4 linked regions of the Homo sapiens genome follow. The protein of the gene in region 4 purifies or fractionates together with the protein of the main gene of each other region. This does not show direct contact. Each region holds a gene or a part of one and is shown on either strand. Other genes may lie near its edges.

The links.
Region 1: the proteins of CCDC12 (region 4) and DHX35 purify together in Homo sapiens (affinity purification with mass spectrometry; one large-scale study listed by BioGRID and IntAct). This does not show direct contact.
Region 2: the proteins of CCDC12 (region 4) and NUB1 purify together in Homo sapiens (affinity purification with mass spectrometry; one large-scale study listed by BioGRID and IntAct). This does not show direct contact.
Region 3: the proteins of CCDC12 (region 4) and CWF19L1 purify together in Homo sapiens (affinity purification with mass spectrometry; one large-scale study listed by BioGRID and IntAct). This does not show direct contact.

The regions. Positions count from the first base shown.
Region 1 is NC_000020.11:39,024,729-39,028,343, reverse strand, and holds part of DHX35 (probable ATP-dependent RNA helicase DHX35), read right to left. Parts: intron 3,115-3,615; coding exon 2,985-3,114; intron 1-2,984. UniProt on the Homo sapiens protein: May be involved in pre-mRNA splicing.
Region 2 is NC_000007.14:151,372,697-151,375,880, forward strand, and holds part of NUB1 (NEDD8 ultimate buster 1), read left to right. Parts: exon of another isoform or gene 1-1,400; coding exon 1,401-1,547; exon of another isoform or gene 1,548-3,151; coding exon 3,152-3,184. UniProt on the Homo sapiens protein: Specific down-regulator of the NEDD8 conjugation system. Recruits NEDD8, UBD, and their conjugates to the proteasome for degradation. Isoform 1 promotes the degradation of NEDD8 more efficiently than isoform 2.
Region 3 is NC_000010.11:100,264,839-100,269,196, forward strand, and holds the start of CWF19L1 (CWF19-like protein 1), read right to left. Parts: upstream 2,801-4,358; 5' UTR 2,756-2,800; coding exon 2,733-2,755; exon of another isoform or gene 2,688-2,732; intron 1-2,687.
Region 4 is NC_000003.12:46,970,195-46,973,809, forward strand, and holds part of CCDC12 (coiled-coil domain-containing protein 12), read right to left. Parts: intron 1-3,615.

The DNA of each region.
Region 1 (3,615 bases), on a different chromosome or scaffold from region 4:
TCCACTCCCAGCACCACCCCAGGCTGCTTCAAGACACCTGGAAACCCTCTCCTGAAATGGCTCCAGCCCTACCCTTCCCAATGCTGGATGCCTGCCCCAGCACCATCTAAGGAGGTCCCACTCCCCACAACTGCTGCTGACAACAATGCTGGTCTGCTCCTTGAACCTGGGACCCCTCCAACCTCCCCTAAGCCACAGATGACTGGACCATGGCTGGGCACCAGAACCTAAGAGTGCTGCTCTGCAGGCTGGTCAGTGACCTCAGAACTCCTTTGTAAAAGAGTGTCATATGGCAACAATGTTCTTTCTATAAAACACAAACTGGAGATAGTATACAACGTTACTTCTGTGGTTATGAGCTAGTGTTTGAAAATTGAAGTAATTCTTCAAATTTTTCAAATGTTCCATTTTAACTGGTGTTTCTATTGCTACAGCTAACATCTTCCATGAATAAAGCTTCCCCACTATTAGATGATGTCCATAGGATACATTCCAAATTGTTGTGCAAAAGGCTAATGTTATTTTTATGGTTAATGACATATCACATCTCATCAATTTTAAGACTCGCTCTTTTTCTAACTTTAATTCACTGAAATTAGGACAGCATTTTACAATGATAACTGGCAGCATTTTTTTTCTTTGGTGACACATAAAATAACGATGTTTCTTACACATGATGGTATCTTAGATCCAATGGAATAAAGCATGTTGGTAAGTAAGTTCCATAAAGGTGGTACTATTTCCAAAGCCATCAACAATATATAAAAATGGCAGTTTCACTGCATTCTTACTAGCAATGTTTTGGCAAAAAGTGTTACCTTCTGTTACCTTCTTTTATATTACATTTATTTGATTACTATCGGCATATTTCTTCTTTTGTGAATTTTTTGTTCTAATCCTTAGCCCATTTATCAACCTGAAAACTGTTTTTTCCTAAATATATTAAATAAAATCATTCTATAATAAAGTTTTTAATCTTTATCATTTATCTCATGACTGCTGAAAGTATCTTTCACTAATTGCTTTCTATTTTTTAACCCTTAGATGTTTTAAATTTGCATGTAATTTATTTAGTCTCCATGATTTTCTGTATTTTTCCTAAGCACTGAGCTGATAAAATCTCAAATCTACATGTCTAAATATGATCTAATCCGATATCCAGTCTCTTCTCTCCTATTGTCCATAAGAAATTTCCATGTAAAATATGCACTCTAAACAGGGGTGATATCACTTCCAAAGGGGTGGAAACTGGTTCTTGGAGGCAGGGGGAGGGGAGCATCTTAGACACTACAATGGCCGGTAGCCCTCCAAAGCTCAATCCTACCCTACAAAATCTTATTCCTTAGTATTTAATTTCTCAGGCTGGGTAGAATTTAAATTTAACTTTTCTCCTGGGCAGGGGTCTGATAATGAAACACAGGTGAAGAACACCAATTGCTGAAGTAAGGCTGTCATCTACCTGCTGGGTGACAGGCGTTTGACGAGCTGCTCTCCAACTAGGTGCTCCTTGTAAGCATCCTGTTTCTATCAATGACTCCAACATGGCTCAATGGCCCAGGTTTCAACTCTTCCCTCTCTCGTGAGTGTATTCACCCATCAAATATTCTCTGAGCGTCTCATATACTCCTCACTCCAAGCACTTGTCTCCAGTCCTCCTTCCCTAGAGTGCTCTTTGCCACCATTTTCTAATTCAACCAGACCCCAAAGCTTGACCGGACTCCCACCACACCTCAAGGAAGCTGAAAGACTTCCCAAGCTAGCCCTCTCTGGATTCCTTCTTCCCGGCATTCCTTCCACATCTGCCAGCACGTCTTCTATGATTACTAAAGTATCTACTACTTTAACTTCGAAGAGGACTGATAATCTTAGTACTTTGTCTATCCATATGAATCTCTCCCTTCATTACACTGTTCCCTTAGAGTAAAAGCCAAGACTCCGTCATTGTTTAATCACTTGCTCTTAGTATAAAGACAAAAGAAGACTTAAATGGAACCGCCTGGGCTCAGGTTCTGACTCCATCATACCCTCACTGTGTAACTTCAGCAAGTTACATTTTACCTCTTAGCCACGCTTTTCTCACCTATAAGATGGGGAAAAGAGCACACGTTTCACAGCGTTGTTGTGAGCATTAAATTAATAAACACATGGAACACTCAGTGCACTGTCTAGCCACTTATAAGCACTCAGGAAATGTTACCAAGTACTAATGGTGCTGAGGATGTGGCTGAGTACCTGGCACACTAGGCTTTCAGGCTGACTGCTGAGGCGGGTGTGTCACTTCCTTAAAAGCGTAGACTTCTGAGCCACATACAGATCTGGCTCTCCTCCTTACCAGTTGCGTGGTCCTGAATTTAATCTACCTTCTCCCTAGGATCTTACGACTAATTGTAAAATGAGGATAACATTACCGACACCTCACAGAGTGCGAGATTGAGCAAGAGAATATTTGGAGAACCCCTGCCACAGCGTAACCTACTGTGTCCCTGATTAATAGTAGTCACTGTCACTGCTAGAGGCCAGAGACTACGTCTTACATAGTACTTTTCTGTCTTACCTTTAGTGGCTGCCTAGGCTAAATATCCAGCACTTGCTTTAATAATACTTGTCTTTGAATATAAAATTTAATTTTTATGTAATAGCTACTAATATCACTGATCAAAAAGTAATTTTTCTTGCAAAGCCTACATGGGAAAATCAATGACATGATGTGCACTGATGTGACTGTTAGTGATTCTTAAGTATTGTCATGGGCTATGAAATTCCTTTAGTAAGAATGCCCATCAGAAAGAAAAATAGACCTCCTTGGAAAAAATACGCAACTTGACCTTCAGCTTTTCACAGATGCAGGCAACTCAAAATATAAAACCCAGTGTTGGTACAGAGCACGCCACACTGCCTCGCACCAGCCCAGCATGAGAACTTTAGGAAGACAACTCAACAGAATGAAGCAAGGGAGGTCACCAGCTGGGACGGTTTCTTCTCACCTTCACTAGACTTCCTGGGCACTTGAAACTTGACAAGAAGCTTTTTCAATTGTTCTCTTACAGTCGCAGCTCTGACAAGACCCTTGTAATTCAGGAAATGTTCCTGACACCATTTAGAGTCCTTATTGTGCTACAGAACAACCCAGAGAGAGGGAGTTAGAAAACAGATATGTTCTCGACTAAGGCTATGTTGTAAAGATCATTCTTCTCTCTTCCCCCATGTGCTGTTCAACGGCATAAGATCTAAAGATGGGAACTGGCCCTTTTTTGCCCCATCTCTCAAAACAGATGTTAACAACCTTGCACACATCTGACTGCTCTGCAACCTCACTCTTTACACTAAAGGGCAAATGAGAACTTAATGACACGCAGAAACGGTTTCAATCTTACATACCTTCATGAGATGTGAACTATCAGAAAGAACCATTTCTCCACGTGGTTCTTTGTAAATCAACTTTTCTTCTTTGGCATGCTTGAATGTATCACTTTATTATACTAGAAGCCAACAATATGACACTTGCCAATGTAGAAATAATTTACAAATTACTATTATTTGTCCCCAAAGCATGATTTTTCTATCAACAGTATTTAATTTTTTCTGCATTCATAAGTATGATCATTATGTCTTAGA
Region 2 (3,184 bases), on a different chromosome or scaffold from region 4:
AGCTGGTGCCTCAGTGTGGGGAGGTGGTCAGGAGCTGCTGCGGGCTTTCAGGTAGGTGACTGGAATGACGGAGCCTGCTGCCCTGTGCAGCGGGGCTGGAGCTGGGGGAGACTGGCCACTGAGAGGTAGAGCACGTAATGGGGGCATGAGACAGGCCTGGTGCAGCTGAAGGGGAAGCAAAGGGAGCTGGCGCTGTGGGCACTCCAGGGCCACACCAGGAGGTTCTCCTGTGATAGAGACAGGCCATGAGTCTACAGATGTCTTCATCCCTGGAGATGTTTCCAGCAGCCACTCTGTTCTGCCTGCTCCTACTGTGGGGCCTGTGGAGTCTGGTTCCACAATGATGATGCTTTTGTTTTCCTAAGAGATGAGGCCGCTTTCCTGCTGTGGGGAAAATGCAGGGAGGCGCCTGTTGCCTGGGCTGGGCAGGAGGCAGGATCAGGTCTCTGGAAGGAAGGAGTCTGTTTTCTCCCCCGTCCTCGCTGCTGCTGATGGTGGGGCTGGTCTCCCTGGGAGAATGTAGCAAGTCACTTAACTTTGTTGAAAGCTTTCTGTCTCCTTGTTGGGAAAATAATGAGGTTGGATTAAATTCCTGGTTTTCAAACTTGCTTTGTTGTTGTTGTTTTTAAGCAGCAAAATCCCCTTTTTAAATGACATTTTTATGGGGATACTAGTTTACAAAATAAATTGGGAACTCTCCTGATTGGCCCTGGGTGGGAGAGGTGAAGAGACTAGAACCCTCTGCAGCCGTCCTGCGCTCCTGCAGCAATAGCAGGCAACTCTGAGAAACAGGGTTGAGAACCAAGAGGTTAGATGACCTTTGTCTCTGGGCACTCTGTGGGTTCCGAATGGAATGACAGGCCTCAGAAGGCCCTGGAGTCCTTGCTCCCCAGGCTGTGGGGGGCGGGTCACCAGCTTTGGCATTGCCCAGGAGCCCCTGATTCCACATCACATTTTAACTTGAATCCCTGGGCGATTCATCGAAGGCTGGAAGGCCTTCCCACCGCGTGCAGAAGCTCTCCTACCCGGTTCCTACCTGGTTCCTAGAAGAGAATCCATGCACCTCACACCCGCGACCTCTGCAGTGGGAGTGCTGGGTTGGCGAGCAGCCCATCCTGATGCCGGATGGTGGATGGCGGGGCTGGCGAGGCACCTCCTTCCTGCCCCACGGGCATCTCACTTCCACTGCCTGCCTCAGAAGCAGCACTTCCACCACCCCTCTGCCTCTGTGGCACCTCTGCCATTTGGCTGGGTGAGGAGAGGTAGAAAGAGGGCCCCCTGTGCTTTGCTTTGGTTTTTTGGCTTTGCCTGGAAATGCGGAGAATCCTGCAGAGCGCAGACTGAGAGGCTGTGAAATCTCAGTCCCTAACTTGGGATGGGACTTTGCTGTTTTCCTAAAGGAACTGGCCCAAATAAGGAAGGAGGAAAAAGAGAAGAAAAGACGCCGCCTCGAGAACATCAGGTTTCTGAAAGGGATGGGCTACTCCACGCACGCGGCCCAGCAGGTACTCCACGCAGCCAGCGGGAACTTGGATGAGGCCCTGAAGGTAGCAGCTCCCTCGGGGCCTCTGGCCTTGTCCCTGAGCAGTGGGTCCTGCCCAGAGCTCCCTCCATGGCTCTCCAGCATCCTCCCGGGCTCACTCCTATGGGCTGCCCCGTCATCCGGATCTGAAGGGCAGGTTTCTCCTGGGCTCCAGCCCAGACACAGGCTGCGTGAGGCCACGTGAGGCCCCATGCTCAGTGCTTGGCCCAGGCCTGGCTCCAAAACGTGGTGCCTGTCCACACCAGCACAGTCCACAGGCCAGGACTTTGTGTAGGGTTTCTGTGTGCAGCAGAGTTTAGTGAAACAGGCAGTTTCCACGGCAGAAAAAAGAGAATGGGAATTCAACTTGTAGTATAATTGTTTGGCATTAAAATTTTAAATGTAAGTATCTAGTTTTATTTATTTAGTCCATCGTACATGTTGGCAAAGGGAGAGCTTTTCAAAGAACCCCTCAGGAGTGACAGCAGGTTGGGATCCAGACAGCAGTGACTTTACCTGGGCCACTTCCTTCCCTGTGTTGGAGAAGCATATCGAATCCTCAGTAGGGCAGGTGCTGCGCTGCGTCTCAGCAGCTTGGCATGGAACCACCCTCTGCCCTCTCGGCCCCGCAGGTCAGTGAGAGACAAACTCAGAGCACACGTGGTGAGGGGTCCCGAGGGGGTGCACAGGAGGCAGGGGGCTGGCTGTGTGGAGGCAGCAGTCCAGACAGATGCTGGGGCAGCGCGGCGGGCAGGAAGCAGAGTGGTAGGAGCTGGCTTAGGTTGTGCACGTGCTGGGGGCGGGGCTGGGGGGACAGAGATGGGGTTGGAGGGGGTGGGGTGCAGGGCAGGTGTCCTCGTTTGCCCTGCTGAGGCGGGTGTGGGTGCAGCAGGCACGGGGAGTCCACCCTGCCTTTGCCTCTTATCCCTGCCCTGTTCCCCGGAAGGCTCCACAAGTCAGTACTTTTGTAACTATGTACATGTATATTTAACATATACGTTAAATTTTAAATTTTTATTTGAATATCATCTAGTTCGTTTTTTTGTGTGTTGGAGAAATATTAAGAGGTGGGAAATTCTGAATATTCGAAGGGACTGATGGGTCTCAAAATAGATGTGAATTATACGAGTGGCACAAAAATACTTCCAGTCAAAATGGAAGTACTGAGTGTTGGAAAGGAAAGTCTCCACAGGGTCTTTGAAGATTAAGTATTGTGTGATGAAGAAATCAAGGGTCAAAATAACCCTACTACCTGCCTGACATTTTAAGTCTAGAGGGCATGACGCTTTCAAAGATCAATCAGGCAGCCCTGAGCTGCTTGAGACCTTTCTGTCTGTAGCTCTGACAAAACCTGTTTTCTTGGATGCTGCTTCCACCTGCTCTCCATCCCTTCCTGCTCTAACAGAAGGGATCTTTTCCCTGACTAGTCTTGCTCCTCCTTCAAACCCCAGCTGTCCTGGTCTCTGGCTGGAAGCCTTCTGTGAACACCAGCCTGAGTGGGAGCCCCTTTCTCTGCCTCATAGCAGCAGAGGACGGCGGGGTCTGCCTAGCACATGGCAGGGTGCAGCGCCTGTCTGAATGTGTGAAGAGTTCTTAGTGATGGGTAAAGGGTGTTCCTGTGTGTTTTAGATTCTGCTCAGCAATCCTCAGATGTGGTGGTTA
Region 3 (4,358 bases), on a different chromosome or scaffold from region 4:
AGCCAGGCACAGTGGCTCACGTCTGTAATCCCAGCACTTTGGGAGGCTGAGGCAGGAGGGTAACTTGAGCCCAGGAGTTCAAGACCAGCCTGGGTAACATAGCAAAACCCCCTCTCTACAAAAAATACAGAAATTAGCCAGGTGTGGTAGCTTCCGCCTGTAGTCCCAGCTACTCAGGAGGCTGAAGTGGGAGAATCACTTGAGCCCAGGAGGTTGAGGTTGCAGTGAGCCGTGATTGCACAATTGCACTCCAGCCTGGGCGACAGTGAGACCCTGTCTCCAAAAAAAAAAAAAGTTTAAAAGGTAAAAAGAAAAAAAAAGTAATAGAAAAAAGCTTGTAGAATAAGGATATAAAGAAAATATTTTTGTACAGCTGTACAATGTGTTTTATGTCTTAGCTGTGTTATAACAAGAGTCAAAAAGTGTAAAAAAACTTAAAGTTTATAAAGTAAAAGTTACAGTAAACTAAGGTTTACTGTTGAAAATAATATTTTAATAAATTTAATATAGGTGAAGTGTACAGTATTCATAAAGTCTACAATACTGTAAAGTAATACATTCACTCACCTCTTACTAACTCACTCAGAGAAACTTTCAGTTCTGCAAACTCCATTCATGATAAGTGTCCTACACAGGTTGTGCCCTTTTTTTTTTTCCTGTATACAGTATTTTCTTTTTTTCTTTTTCTTTTTTTTTTTTTTTGAGACAGTCTCGCTCTGTCGCCCAGGCTGGAGTGCAGTGGTGCGATCTCGGCTCACTGCAACCTCTGCCTCCCAGGCTCAAGCCATTCTCCTGCCTCAACCTCTTGAGTAGCTGGGATTACAGGCGCCCGCTACCACACCCGGCTAATTTTTGTATGTTTAGTAGACACAGGGTTTCACCATGTTGGCCAGGCTGGTCTTGAACTTCTGACCTCAGGTGATCCACCCACCTCGGCCTCCCAAAGTGTTGGGATTACAGGCATAAGCCACCACACCCGGCCAGGTGTTTTCACTGTACCCTTTCTATATTTAAATACAAAAATGCTTACCATTGTGTTACAATTGCCTACAGTATTCAGTACAGTAACTTGACGTACAGCTATACCATTTAGCCTAGGTGTACAGGAAGCCATACCATCTAGGTCTCTGGAAGTACACTCAAAGATGTTCGCACAATGACGAAATCGCCTACCAACTCATTTCTCAGAACATAACCCTGCTGTTAAGCAATGGATTACTCTTATTTCCCAAGGCTCAATCCTAACATTCTCGGGAAGCCTTCTTGACTCCTATCATTAAGCCAAATACCCCTCTTATGCACTCTCCCAGATTCACGAATATTTTCTTCCCAAAAGTTACCACTATTGCAATTTTTTTTTTTTTTTTTTTGAGACAGGGTTTCAATCTGTCACCCAGCCTGGAGATCAGCAGCACGATCACAGCTCACTGCAGCATCGACCTCCCCAGGCTCAGGTGGTCCACCTGCTTCAGCCTCCCAATTAGCTGGGACCACCACGCCCGGCTAATTTTTTTTTTTTTCTGTATTTTTTGTAGAAACGGGGCCTTGCTATATTGCCCAGGCTGGTCTTGAATTCCTGGACTCAAGTGATTCTCTTGCCTTGGCCTCCGGAGTCGCTGGGATTATAGGCGTGAGCCACTGCGCCTGGCCCTATCACTATGGTAACTTTACATTTATCTGAATTCCTTTTTTTTTAGACGGAGTCTCACTCTGTTACCTAGGCTGGAGTGCAGAGGTGCAGTGTCGGCTCACTGTGCAACCTCCGCCTCCGGGTTCAAGCGATTCTCCTGCCTCAGCCTCCCAAGTAGCTGGGATTACAGGCACGCGCCACCACGCCTGGCTAATTTTTTTTTTTTGTATTAGTAGAGACGGGGTGTCACCACGTTGGCCAGGCTGGTCTCGAACTCCTGACCGCAAGTGATCCGCCCGCCTCAGCCTCCCAAAGTGCTAGGATTACAGGCGTGAGCCACCGCGCCCGGCCATTATTTGTATTGTTTTTTGTTTGTTTTGTTTTGTTTTGTTTTGTTTTGAGAGTCTCGTTCTGTCGCCCAGGCTGGAGTGCAGTGGCGCGATCTCGGCTCACAGCAACCTCCGCCTCCCGGGTTCAAGCGATTCTCCTGCCTCAGCCACCGCGCCCGGCCCATTATCTGGATTCTTTAGTACCTGTTCCTCTAGACTCTACGCTCCATTAAAGCAGGAACTCCATCTGTTGCAACACCTAGCACAGCGTCCGGCACACTGCAGTTCTTCAATAAATACTTGCTGCATGAAGCCCTCTCTTCACCACCACCCCCACCCCTCCTCCTCGCAAAAAAAAAAAAAAAAAAAAAATGCCCCAGGGAAGGGTCCCTATCTACTCTGTCCACCACTGCCCAGGGCCCATCAGTGGGCCCAATGGCTATTTGGCGAGTAAATAAATGGGGTCAGGAGAAACGAAGGGGAAAGGATGTGTCAGAGGCCAGGACTGCCCCCTAAGATGGAGGAGGCCTAACTCTGGGAGCTTCCGCCTCTCCGAACGAGCGTCGCCAAGAGAAACCCCCTCAGAAGCGAAAAGGGCCAGGAAAAGAGGTCAGCCCCGGCCAGGCAAAGACATCACCTAAGCTCCCCAGCAGCCCCGTGTCTCTCCGCCTTTTCCTTCTCCCTTCCCGTCATGGGAAAGACTCCCGCCCGTGTCGTCACCTACACACACGAAAGAGACACAGGGAGAGAGGCTTCCATTCACGGTCACTCACAGGCGCAGCGGTTTCTGTGCCATCTGTCCGAATAGTATGGGTTGCGACTGCCACCTAAAATTGGGAATGCGAATCCGCGCTCCCCGGAAAAATGCGACCGCGCAACAATCAGACGTCAGCGCCCTCCAGCCAATAACGGTTCACTTACTTACGGAGACCGCCGAGGGACAGAAGCCTCTCTCAGGTGTTTGCGCCTCAAGGAAGAATCAAGAGGGAAAGGGAGGAACGAAGGGAGAAAGAGAAAGTGACCGAAAGGATTCCAACTATGATTTTTTAAATTAAATTTCAGAGCACTTGAAGCGAATGAATGGCTAGGAAGTACAGAGCACAATGTCGGGTTCTAACCTAACCTAACCTAACCTAACCTAACCTAACCATATCGGTCTAGTGGGCAAGACAGACCCCCTCTATCCACGTTTTTTGTAAGTTTTTAACCTATCAAAAAGTTAAGAGGCCGGGCGTGGACGCTCACGCCTATAATCCCAGCACTTTGGAAGGCTGAGGCGGGCGGATCACTTGAGGTCGGGCGTTCAAGACCAGCCTGGGCAACATGGTGAAACCCCGTCTCTTCTAAAAATACAAAAATTAGCCGGGCATGGTGGAGAATTGCTTCAACCAGGGAGGCGGGGGTTGCAGTGAGTCAAGATCGCGCCATTGCACTCCAGCCTGGACAACAAGAGCGAAACTCCGTCTCAAATTAAAAAAAAAAAAGTTAAAAGAATAATGGCTATTACCTTGATTCAGTAAGTCTCAGCATGTTGGCAAATTTGCTTGTGTTCTCTTTCTCTCAAAGTGCCCAAGCCCTTCCATTCTCACTCAATCATTTGAAAGTAAAGTACAGGCCGGGCGCAGTGGCTCACGCCTGTAATCCCAGCACTTTGGGAGATCCAGACCATCCTGGCTAACACGGTGAAACCCCCTCTCTACTAAAAATACAAAAAATTAGCCGGGCGTGGTGGCACGCACCTGCAGTCCCAGTTACTCGGGAGGCTGAGGCAGGGGAATCGCTTGAACCCAGGAGGAGGAAGTTGCAGTGAGCCGAGATCGCGCCACTTCACTCCAGCCTGGGCGACAGAGCGAGACTCCGTGTCAAAAAATAAAATAAAATAAAGTGCGGACAACAGGAATACATCTCCATTTATCTCCTAAGATTAGGATATCCTCCTACATAACCGTAATACTATTAACACAGCTAAGAAAATTAACATTAATTATTCAATAATATTACCTAATATACATCCATATTTAAAGTTCTCCATATTTCCCTACAAACTGATTTTATATTTGGGGCTTGTTTTGATTCAGATGCAATCAAGTTTCACACTTGCATTTGGTTCTGTCTCTATTTTAATCTACAAAAGCCCTCCTACCTATTTGGTTTTAGTTTTTGTAATATTGACTTTTTTGAAGGGTTCAGGCCAAGTGGTAGGAAACAAGTGTGTAAGGAAATGGAAACAAGAGAGAGTTCCTGACGACTGCGGGGAAAGGAAGACTCATCAAGGGCATCTAAATAATTCAAAATTAATAAAACATAAGATTAAAGAAGAACTACAGGCCAGGCACAGTGGCTCATGCCTGTAATCCCAGCACTTTGGGAGGCTGAGGCGGGAGGTTCACTTGAGAACA
Region 4 (3,615 bases):
AACCCGCAGACCAAGGCCCAGGACCACTTCAAATGCAGCCCAACACAAATTCGTAAACTTTCCTAAAACATTATGAGATATTTTTTGTGATTTTTTTTTTAAAGCTCATCAGCTATCATTAGTGTTACTGCATATTATGTGTGGCCCAAGACAATTCTTCTTCCATTGTGGCCCAGGGAAGCCAGAAGATTGGACACCCCTGGATAACAGGCATGAGCCACTGTGCCTGGCCGGTAGCCACATTTCAAGGGCTTGAAAGTCACAGGTGGCCCATGGCTACAGTACTAGACAGTGCAGATTAAAGAACACTATCACTGCACAAAGTTCTAGTGAGCAACACTGCTGCTCTAATCTCTAGAGCCAGGTGACAACCAGGAATTGCTGGTTGCCTGGAACCTGCAACTTGACAGCCAGACCTCAGCCCCAAGGGCTGGTCAGCCAGACAGCCAGTCTCCCTGTCTCAGAGCAGCAAGAGACAGCCCAATTCAGGGCAATCGCTCAGGAAAGCTTGGCATGTTTATGCCAAGTTAATCATCACCTTTAGAGAGCCTCCATTTGGCTGCTGAAGAAGAAAGAGGTCAAAGGAGGACAGAGTGGCCTCACACTGCCCTGCCGGACAGCACTGTAAAGAGATGCCAGAGTTTCATCCACACAGCCTTGAACTGTTCACCTACTCACCCAGCCAGGAACTTCTGGATGAGCATCAGGAAATGAGGTTCAAATACAATACAGAAAAGTGTGCCCAGGCTGGCTACCATCCCTGCTGGAAACCCTGGCTCTTGCAAAACTTGGCTACCAGAGTACCCCAGTCCAGCACTTTCAGACTGTACCCCTGCCCCTGTATCACTGCCAAGTGCTTGCTGTCAAACTCCCTGGAGCATCTCCACTCTCACCTCTATGCACCTGAATGTTCCCACCTCTAAAATGCTCCCTGGGAACACTCTCCTTTCCAGCTACCTCGATGACCTTCTCCCACTTCCCCATCCTCCGTGGCTCAGCTCAAGTTCCATGCTGCCTTCCCATGAAGCTTCCTCAGGCTCTGCCTGGCTTTCCCAGAAAATGAACCCCAGCAGTACTGTCTTTCTGCGTGTCAACGGGAACTGGCTGACCTACAAGATGCTGCTTCAGGCAGTGCTGTGTCCTCTACAGAATCCCCTTCCCCCAGGGGGTCTTGCATGGGCTGGAATCCTGGAATCCAGGAGACATTACTTCCCCTCCTCAGCCTTGGACATCCCAGCTCTCCTCAGCCTCTTGCCTTGCTCCTCTCACTAATAAGTGGCATCAGGTGGGCTGACCAGGACGTCTTTGTAAAACTACAGCTGCATGACTACAAGAGAGTTTTGCGCAGAATAATACACGGAAACATTGCAACCCCTAATCTTGTCTCTTTCCATCTGCCACAACCTCAGGACCCTGAATTGTCTTAATATCACTAAATTATGAGTTTATAGTCTGGTGAGAGTTAGGAAGAAAGATAAAACTGTGAGGAAAACCAACTCCATGCCTGAAATTCCTAAGGCCTCCAGCAAAACCATGCCCACAGTAAGAACTCAATGAAGGACCTGCCACTGAGTGCTAGGAAACCAGCAAGATGCCATCCTCATGGGGCAGACAGGTGCTCTCCAAGTGCAGGCAGAGAAGGTGCTCAATCCTGGTGTCTGTTGTCACATCAGAAACCTGAACTAAAAATGTGAAGCCGCTTCCTCTCTGAAGGAGGAGACTCAAGGGGTTTTATCTGGCCACAGCAGGCAGTCATACTTCCTCACCAGACTCCCCACTTAAAAGGTCCAGCAGAAAGGGCCACAGGCTGGAAAATCAACTCAAAGGTTAGACCCTTACCTGTCCTGTCCCCAGGCATTCACCTTAATAAAAAAAATCACTCAAGAACTATAGGGATTAAATATGACACTAAAAATACATGCAACAAAATCAAAAACAGATAAATTGAACTTCATCAAATTTTAAACTCTTTGCGCAGCAAATGAGACTATCCACCAGGTGCGGTGGTTCACACCTGTAATCCCAACACTTTGGGAGGCCAAAGCAGGAGGACTGCCTGAGGCCAGGTGTTTGAGATCAGCTTGGGAAACACAGTGAGACCCCCATCTCTACAAAAAATTAATTTTTAAAAAAATGACACTACTAAGAGAATGAAAAGATAATCCAGAGAATGGGAAAAAATATCACTAATCTCATCTCTAATAATGATTTAATATCCAGAATATATGAACAATTCAATGACAACTCAATAACAAGAAAAAGAGCCCAATTAAAAATATGGGCAAAAGGAATCTGGATACTTCTTCAAAGAAAATATATATACAAGTGGCAAACAAGCATATGAAAGGATGTTCAACATCACTCATCACTGGGGAAATGCAAATCAAAACCACAATGGGATACCACCACTTCACACCCATTAGGAAGGTTATAATTAAAAAAACGAAAAAAGAAGATGGCTGGGCTTGGTGGCTCACACTTGTAATCCTAGCATTTTTGGAGGCCAAGGCAGGAGGATCACTTGAACCCAGGAGTTCAAGACCGGCCTGGGGCAACACAGTGAGACTCCTGACTCCTTTAAAAAAAAAAAAAGAAAGAAAGAAAATAAAATAATAAGTGCTGGGGAGGATGTGGAGAAACTGGAAGCCTTGCACACTGCTGCTGGGAATGTAAATGGTGCAGCCACTACTGAAAACACTATGGTGTTTCCTCAAAAAGCTAAACAGAATTATCATATGATCCAGCTGTTTTCCCTACACATAATTACATTCCTCTCCCTGCTATATAAACCCCTGATTTTAGTTCGTCGAAAAGACAGATTTGAGACTGATCTCCCTTCTCCTCACCTGACATCACCCGAATTTAAAAAAAAAAAAAAGGCCCAGTGTGGTGGCTCACGCCTGTAATCCCAGCACTTTGGGAGGCCGAGGTGGGTGGATCACCTGAGGTCAGGAGTTTGAGACCAGCCTGACCAACATGGTGACACCCTGTCTCTACTAAAATAAAAAATTAGCTGGGCGTGGTGGCATACACCTGTAATCCCAGCTACTGGGGAGGCTAAGGCAGGAGAATCGCTTGAACCCAGGAGGTGGAAGTTGCAGTGAGCTGAGATCGTGCCATCGCACTCCAGCCTGGGCAACAAGAGCGAAGCTCCATCTCAAAAAAAAAAAAAAAAAATTAATCCCAGCTACTCGAGAGGCTGAGACAGGAAAATTGCTTGAACCCAGGAGGCGGAGGCTGCAGTGAGCTGAGATTGCACCATTGCATTCCAGCCTGGGCAACAAGAGCGAAACTCCATCTCAAAAAAAAAAAAACAAGAATTACCATATGATCCAGTAATTCCACTTCTGGCTATCTACCCAAAAGAATTTAAAGCAGATACTCAAACAGGTATCTGTACTCCCATGTTTCTTCTTTTCTTTTTTTTTTTTTTTTTTGAGATGGAGTCTCACTCTGTCGCCCAGGCTGGAGTGCAGTGGCGCATCTCAGCTCACTGCAAGCTCCGCCTCCCAGGTTCACGTCATTCTCCTGCCTCAGCCTCCCAAGTAGCTGGGACTACAGGCGCCCACCACCGCGCTCGGCTAATTTTTTGTATTTTTAATAGAGACAGGTTTT